3 separate regions of the Homo sapiens genome follow, and all the other regions are linked to region 1. The links come from fine-mapping of genetic effects on gene expression. A gene starts in region 1. Each other region holds a variant in brackets. All regions are shown on one strand. Distances are from middle to middle. Region 1 holds the start of SFSWAP (splicing factor SWAP). Region 2 has its middle 24 kb from the start of LINC02370. Region 3 has its middle 28 kb from the start of LINC02414.

The links. PIP is the estimated chance that this variant, and not a neighbour inherited with it, causes the effect.
Region 2: its variant is the best candidate, but not a certain one, in a credible set for the expression of SFSWAP in whole blood (TOPMed, PIP 0.62).
Region 3: its variant is the best candidate, but not a certain one, in a credible set for the expression of SFSWAP in whole blood (TOPMed, PIP 0.52).

The regions. Positions count from the first base shown.
Region 1 is chr12:131,709,812-131,712,568 of GRCh38, reverse strand. SFSWAP (splicing factor SWAP) reads right to left here and starts at 1,479. Exons shown (of 18, transcript NM_004592.4): 1 at 1,122-1,479. The coding sequence starts at 1,339. RefSeq lists enhancers at 1,245-1,314, 1,405-1,694, 1,835-1,924.
Region 2 is chr12:131,370,127-131,372,883 of GRCh38, reverse strand. No RefSeq gene overlaps it. Among named protein-coding and RNA genes, the nearest start is that of LINC02370, 24 kb to the right of the region's middle. The variant A/T (reference allele first, on the strand shown) is at 1,653.
Region 3 is chr12:131,674,927-131,677,683 of GRCh38, reverse strand. No RefSeq gene overlaps it. Among named protein-coding and RNA genes, the nearest start is that of LINC02414, 28 kb to the right of the region's middle. The variant T/A (reference allele first, on the strand shown) is at 1,176.

The DNA.
Region 1 (2,757 bases):
CCTACAGTCATGCTCCAGGGCTATGAAGAATCCAGTTTTAATGGTCTCAAACGATGGGCTTTCTTCACGTGGAGAGACTATTCCACAGTTTAATGGTTGGTCATGGTTAGCTTTTCAGTCCGGGCCCCAGAAGTAGCCGAACAGGCAAAAAAGAAAAAAAACCACCCCACAACAACCCCAAAACCCAGAGACGAGGGGAAGGGGGATTGAAAAAATGGGAAGAAAGAGGGGAGCAAACCACCTACATCATGTAATGTTATCCTTTTCAAATCAAACGCCTTTAGAAATCCCTAATCCCAGGCCCCCACTGCCCATAATCGCTAGACACCCTCGAGTGACGACCTAAAGCAGGTTTGATTTGAAAAGAAACAACACATCTATATCCCAGCTCCACCCTTCAGTCTTAAGAGACAGTGAAACCAGCCCTAAGAACACTATCTCTTCCAAGAGCAAGGCCAGGGTCCGCACGAAGTCAAGTGGCCACCAACTGACGGGCAACTTTGCTCACTACCTCAATCTGTCAAACTCGTCGGATTATCACCGGGAAATCAAACGTCATGCCGGCAAAGTACGGGCGCTCCACTGAGGGCTCTGGGGGCATAACAGGTTAAGGCTAACTCACAGGTCCAAGAGACACTTCTAGCCACTGTCTCAGTGAGCGGCGGTTCGGAAGAATAAAGGCACGCCTCCCAGGGTACCCTCCCAGTACACCGAGCAGTGAGAGCGCGGCAAGTAGAAAAGCAGCGCACGACCCCATGGCATCGCCGGGCGGCAGGCCCAGGTGCACTCAGGAAAAGACCCTGGGCACTGGCTGCTTTCACCGCGCGGAATCGCCAACTGCAGCCCAGCGACAGGGTGAGGGGTCGAGAGGGGCTGCGGGACCAGAGACGATCCCTCCGGAGACGGACGCGGCACGCAATTCCAGCCAGTGCCTTAGGGCAGGTTTCACCGTCCCCCTCCCCACCAGAACACCAGGAGGAGGTGGGGACAGGGGAGGGGGTGTCCCCCAGATCCCCGCTGGCTCCAGAAAACTCTCTGCAGTCCTTGCAGTCAAGTCAACATCAGACGAGATCAAGCGGGTGAGGGAAGGGAAGGATCGACGGGTGGGGAGAGGAACCGACCTGTCGATGAGGATCTTGTGGTCCCCCATCCAGGGGATGAGGTGCTGTCCCTGTTCCTGAGCCAGGGCCCGCTCGTCGTCCCGGAACAGCTTGCAGGCATAGCCGAAAACCAAGAGCTCCACTCGGCTGCCCCCACCGCCGGCACCGCCTGGCCCGGCCTCCTCCTTCGCGCCGCTTTTCCTCTCGGGTTTGGCGCGGCCCCCGCTCGCGCCGTACATGACAGCGTCCCCGGCGTCCAGGCTGGTCCTCTTCTGTGCCGCGCGACGTCCCTGATACCTCCACTTGGCCTACCCCTTCAGTCAAAGACCCCGCATCCCGTACCCAACCTCAACACCGCCGCCATAGCGGGCCACAAAATGGTGGAGGGGCAGCTTCCGGCAGGAGAGCCCGCATTTCCGGCGAGCGGACCGGCAGATTCGCCTAGGCTTGGAGCTCTTTTAGCCGCTAGGAAATATTTTGGCTTTAATTTTCGCATTCAGGTGTGCCGCCACAATAGGCGCTGCTGTATTCAGTGGAAAGTGCAATTTTAATGTCCGTTTTATCGGGCAGCCGTCAGGACGTGGCGAAAGCGCAGCGTGGGATCGCGCGCCGGCTTCCGCTGCGGCCAGTCGGGCGGCGACGGAGTCGGAGGGAGGGGCCCGGCGCGCTCTGGGCCTTGGGCGAGTCCTCGTGGGTGGCGGGTTGCTGCAGCCTGCCACATGTGTGGAGGCCTCGGGTCCACCCCGAGCCTCCGCGCCCCTCACCATGTCCGAGTCGCTGGGGCCGTGCGTGCTCTGCCCAGGGTGGCGATGTCCTTTTCCTTGGCCCCGTTTCCTTCTCCATCCCTAGGGGGACTTGGTCCCCGACCCGCCCACCTTTGAAGGTTTCCGAGGCAGCAGAGGCCCCTGCGCTGCAAATCACTCGCGGGTGGCGAGATTTCGGAAACCTGAGACCCTTGTCGCCGGGAGATGGTCTGGCGGGGCAGGGAGACCCCAGTCTGGAGACTGGCCACCTGGATACGGTGCAATTTTGCTTGGTGTGTTTCCTCCTGGGCCGCAGTTTTCCCATCGGTGGTTCCATTAGGATCTTTCGGTCCCTTTTAGCTCAGTAATTTCAGGTCAGACAAAGGGCCTGGAGTGCAAAATCTTAGGCTTTGGGATGGGATGGGATATCCCCATGTTTGCCCTTGAGTGGAAAACGATGACAGATCGTCTCCTTTCTGGGCCTCAGATCCCCTCTCCATAAAAATGGAATCTTTCTACCAGTGATGTTGAAATGAGATAATGTATATGAACCTTTAACTGATTTTTGGAAATTAAGAAACAGGCAGTTCCCACCAAACGTCTTTTGTTGTGGTTTCCCCTGACTGGGTCATGCTTCTGTCTTCATTTGCCAGGCTCCTTACCCAAGTTTAACTCAGTCATCCATTTCTCCACCTGGCCTTATGTGTCTACGTTGTCTGGAGTTTCCCCTCACTGGTGGCTAACTTGTGCCTTCCGATTTGTCTGTGTACCTCTCATCACCACCTTAGGTTACATCCTGTGTTCAGCATCCCACCAGAATTAGCTTTAAGAGATCAGGGACATTGTTGGGGTCACCTTAGCATCCTCAGCACCTAGAATGGTGCTTAGCACACTGTGGGCCAAATACTGGTTAA
Region 2 (2,757 bases), 340 kb after region 1:
TGGACAGATGGATGGAGGGATGGACAGATGGATGGATGGATTGATGGAGGGATGGATTGATGGAGGGATGGATTGATGGAGGGATTGATGGATGGATGGATCGATGGAGGGATGGATTGATGGAGGGATGGATTGATGGAGGGATGGATGGAGGGAGGAATGGATTGATGGATGGAGGGATGGATGGATGGAGGGCTGGATGGTGGTGATGGTTGCACAGTAAAAGCAATGTACTTAGTATCATCAAACTGTACACTTAAAAATGGTTAAGATAGTCAATTTTATGTTATGTGTATTTTACCACGATAAAAAAAATTGGCCCCCAAGCCCCACAATATATTAAAAACAGCAAACATTTAAACTTACCTTCCAGGAACCTCAAAGATGCACAGACATGCGGGCCACTTGCTTTTGCCCTTGGACCCACTCGCTGACCTTGCTTTGCTCTTTGCTTCCCAAGGGTGCTGTACTCCCTGGCCTCCTTGTCCCCCATTTCTGGGCAGTTCTTAAGCAGGCAGTTACCGAGGCAACAGGCAAGATTACCTGCAGGCGGCTAAGAGCAAGCCAAATGGGGCCAACAGGTTAGCACAGGGGCCCCGGTCAGTAACGGACGCTCCAGAAAGTGGCTGGGACAGACATCTGTGGTCACCCGCAGTGGGCAACTTCCTTGCTGAAGGAGGAGTGACTGTTGGAGGAAAAGTCCCAAAGGCCGAGCCAAGAACCATGTCCTTATGTTGAACTTTGCTCACTGTAATAGTGAAAAACACATGCCTGGGCAGAGATTTAAAATGCTAATGAGACAGGCAATGTATGTGCCAGCATGTACAGTGACGGCCTCTGTAGGCCCAGGAACCCACCCACAACATGCTTAGTTCCTGCTCCTTCAGGAATAATCATGTGAGACTCCCATCAAAGGAACTTCCCAGTGCCAGTCTCACTGTCTTATTCCAGAGCAGCCCGCTCTGACCCAGCTAGTGGTGCACACTTTCGCTTTGCAATAAACTTCTTTGCCCACTCTTACTTTGGACTTGCTCCCAAATTATTTCGTGCACAGATGTCAAGAACCTGAACAGGCCCACCCACAGCATCCCTGGCCAATGGGAGGCCTCAGCAGGACATGGCAGGCGGGAGATGTGGGGAGGCCACAGCCTGGTGCTTTTCTGTCTCGCTCCCTCCGGTGTGTCTGGCTTGTCTGGGAGCGTCTGCTGTTACTGAAGTCCCAGCTTTGCCTCCGTCTTTCTCCCTCTAACCCAAGACAAAGAGCAGTGTGCTGGATTCCTGCTGTTGCTAAATTCTGGACTGCTCCACGCCCCTGGGTTTGGCTTCTGTGTTCTTCCACCCATTCTCTGCATTACATTTCCTCCCTGTGAAATGTCTTGAGTCAATTCTGTCTCTCGACTAGACCACGCCTGCAACACTAACTGTTCCGTTCGGACAGAAGGTTCCTGAGAACACACTGGCGCTGCTGCGCTCCACAGGACTGCTGCTCACAGGTAAGATGCAGAGGAGAACGGTCGCCACAGCCGTCTCAACGTCCAACAGAATTTTCACTGTGCAGGCGGTGATTTATTTTCTTTCTCCACCAACTTGGTTGGCCTTCATGCCACGGGGATGAGCAGCCTAGGACCCTGGTGAGGCCACGGCTCCAGTAG[A/T]CCCTGACAGTGAAGCTGTGGTCCCTGGTTAGCGGTCACTGCCTGACACTTAGGGCCTCCCTTCATTCCTCCAGGGAGCCGAGGTGCATGTTCGTGCCATAGAGAGGCCCACGCTTTTCATGCAACACAGCCGGTAAATGCAGACTCACTCCCTGGCCTGGGGCTCTGATGGAGACACAGGAACCTGGTCCCTGGCTGCAGGAAGCAACACCCATGGGTCCAGGGAGGGGTGTTGTGTCCGTCACTGTATTTCAAGGGCTTACGAAGGTGTTGCCTTTGGTCATTCTGCTATTTGTGACTTCATCTTATGTACTAACGTTAGGATGCTACTTCTGAAAAGGATGTGACTCACTTACTCTATTAAAAAAAAGAGTAAAGTTTTTTCTTTAAGGAGCCTGCTGCCTGAGGGAACCCTGTACAGTTATGGGGTCAGGAGTGGAGCCTCAGGCCAAGTGATTAAGAACAGGAAGAGATTCTGGGCAGAAATGATCGATACATTTATAAAGGAGATTCTATTGGTTCCACGTCTGAAGGATGAAAATACAGAAGGTCAATTCACACAGAGCATACACTCTGTGCCTGCCCTGTTCAGGTTAAATCCACACCAAAGCTCATTCTGCAAAAAACGAAATGGAGACACAGAGTGAATAATCAGCTCCCTGCACCCCACGCTCTGTAAACCAGGACACTGGCCCTCTCGCTCCCGAGTCCATGCCGCGAGCACTGACTGACCCTGCCTGACCCTGCCATAGAAGCAGGGCTCTGGGCTGCTGATTTCCAGTAGGAAATTCAACAGCTCATCAAACCCATGGTTGCCATGGCCTGGCCGGAAGAGACTCTTCTCCCCTGAGGAGTAAGAGTGAAGGGTTATCAGATTCTAAGAGTCTTGGGAGGTTGCTTTGTTCAGGAAAGTCACCTCCTTCGTGGGGGTCCCTCCTCCCACATCTATTCCTGGAAACCCAGGTTGGCTAGGGACACGACGGGGCATCGCTTGAGGTAAGAAGACCCCCCAACACTGTTTTTTTGGGGTGGGCCACACCCTCCTGGGGTCACATTGGACACCGACGGTCTGCTTCCCCTCTGAAGGGCCCTGGTTCTCACTGCT
Region 3 (2,757 bases), 35 kb after region 1:
AAAGCTAATAATTATTAGCATTATGAATTAATAGACAGGGAGGCAGTGAAGTACAGGTGCTGGGGGGCTACAGCACAAAGTCCAGGAGAGTCCATCCTGGCCCCGCCCCTGAGCCCGGGTGACCTTGGGCCAATCCCCCAAGGTCAGCCCTTCCAATGGGTTCCATCACCTCTAAATTGCACCTCCCAGGAGAGCACAAAATGAGAAAAAGCGCTTAAAACCCTGAGCATGGATGGCTCCTGAGATAGCCAGTGGGTCGGGGGCTCCATCCAGCCTGGGATGCTCCATGTAGTCCATATGGCATCCTGTGAAATTCTGAGTCTGTTGCCAATAGTTCAAAGTTGGGATGTTTCAGGTAAAACCTGGATTTCCACCTCATCCTGGAGAACCAGAAGTCCCGGCAGCCCTGGGTGCACCCGGCCACAGTCTGCTGTCAGAGTCAAGGCTGGGGGCTGCTCCCCAGTGACCCAGCTCCCACAAGCTGGACTGGCAGCCACATCCACCCAGCCCCATTGGTGCTGTGACCCTGATGTGACCTGGGCCTCTGCCACCGAGGCCCTGAGCCCCCCTCCCCCAGCGAGAGGCCTACGGCCTCTGGAATAAGCTCAGTGGGGAGCGGCCTGCTGTGGGGACGCCTCTCACCACAGGTTCCCCCTGAGTTTTAAACAAAATGCACATGTGCACACACGCACACACTGAAACACACATCTGCACAAACCTGCACACAGCTACACACCCACACGGATGTACACCACACACATGCCATGCACACACATAGACACACGTGCACTCACACTCACACATCCCAGACATGTGCGCACACTTATGCACACATGCTCAATGCACCTGCACAGAGCAATGTACACACATATACATACACTCATATCCACACACCCCATGTACATGTGTGCACATGCATGCTTAAGTACACCCAAACATAGCACATGTGTACACATATACACACATCTCTACATCCCACGTACCCGTGTGCACATGCATGCTCAAATACTCATAACACACACGTACACACATATGCACACATGCACACTCATATCCATACATCCCATATACCTGTGTGTACGCACATTCTCAAATACACACCTGCACAGAACACATGTACACACATATACACACAACCAAAAACACATCCATGCACACATACACACATATGCACA[T/A]GAAAACACGTCTGCACATTCATGCATACTAGACGCACACAACATCCACACACCCACATGGATACACAGATACACACGCACACTAACATCCACTCAGCTCCACACACATGCATGTGCACACCTGCACACACACCTGCACACACCTGCACACACACCTGCACACACACCTGCACACACACGCCCACATCACAGCTATATGAACACCTGTACACACACATGCCGCATGCACACCTGCACACCCAGCCTGTCTCCCAGCCTTAGGACAATGACATTCTCCCTTCAGGGTTCCCAAATCCATGACTACACTCACTCAACCCCTCTGCAGGGCCGTGCAGACCCCGTATCTGCTGCCGGAAAGGGAGGCAGTGGGGGATGATGAGAAGCTCCTGTGACACCAGGGATCCAGTGTCCCCTGCACCCATGGGGGTGGACGATTGGTCACTGAGGCTGGTGGCATTAGAGAGGAGAGGCATCAAAATCCCCCGTGGGACAGATGTGGGAAAGGATGCATGTGGGGTGAGGACGGGGTGCTTGAACTGGAAACCAGAGCTCCAGGGTTTCCTCCAGAAGGATCAGGTGGAGACCACAGGCTGAGAGTCTTCTAGTCAGGGGTCAGCAGGAATCAGCCTCGGGGCCTGGCTCCCTGCAGGGGCAAGGGGCTGGATGGCCACCGTGGACTCAGCCTCCATGGATTGTGAGGGAAAAGCTCTTGCCCCTGCAAATCCAGCCCACACCTGCCTCGCTGAGGGACTCATCAGCACCTTGCAGGACCCTCCACTCACCACTAGAAACAGAATGTGCTTGGGTCACTGACTTACTGTTCCTCAAGGGAAAGTTAGGAGGGACCAGTTAAGTTAGAGCTTAGGGGGTGCAGAGACCCTTCGTCAGGAACTCAAAGTGGAAACAGAGCCCAGGCCGTTATTCCGCATCTACTCACCCCTCCCTCTGGAAGGGATCAGAGGCATCTCGGGGTGGGAGCCCCTCCTGGACGTCAGAGCCCAGGGGAGGCCCCATCCTCTCTCCTCGGATGCCTGAACCCAGGGGAGGCCCCGTCCTCTCTCCTCGGATGTCAGAGCCCAGGGGAGGCCCCGTCCTCTCTCCTTGGACGTCAGAGCCCAGGGGAGGCCCCGTCCTCTCTGCTCTGTGGGACGTGCCCAGGCCCGAGGATGGGGGACCAACAATGGGCTCTTCACACAGAACCAGATTGTTTCATCGACCCTGGGAGTGAGGGTCCTGGGTGCTCTGTGTCCCTGATGAATGACACACCTTCCTAGCAAACTACAGGGAAATGTCATCAAATCAAGCTGCTGGTTCTAACCCCAGAACTTACATGAAATGCAGGGAAGGGAGCAGCATCTCCAAGGACGCCTGGGGATGTGATCAGCACCATCTGGACACGGGACTCACAGGACAAATGGCACAGCCCCGTCCTTCTGCAAAGAAATCACGGGGAGAAAAGAAGGGGCTGGAGGAGAGGGGAGAAGGAAGATGGCAGACATGTGTGGAAACCTCCCCCCATAACCAGTGGTGTGCTGGCAGAGGCGGAACAATGGGATCTCTTGGTGTGTGTGTATACTCACGC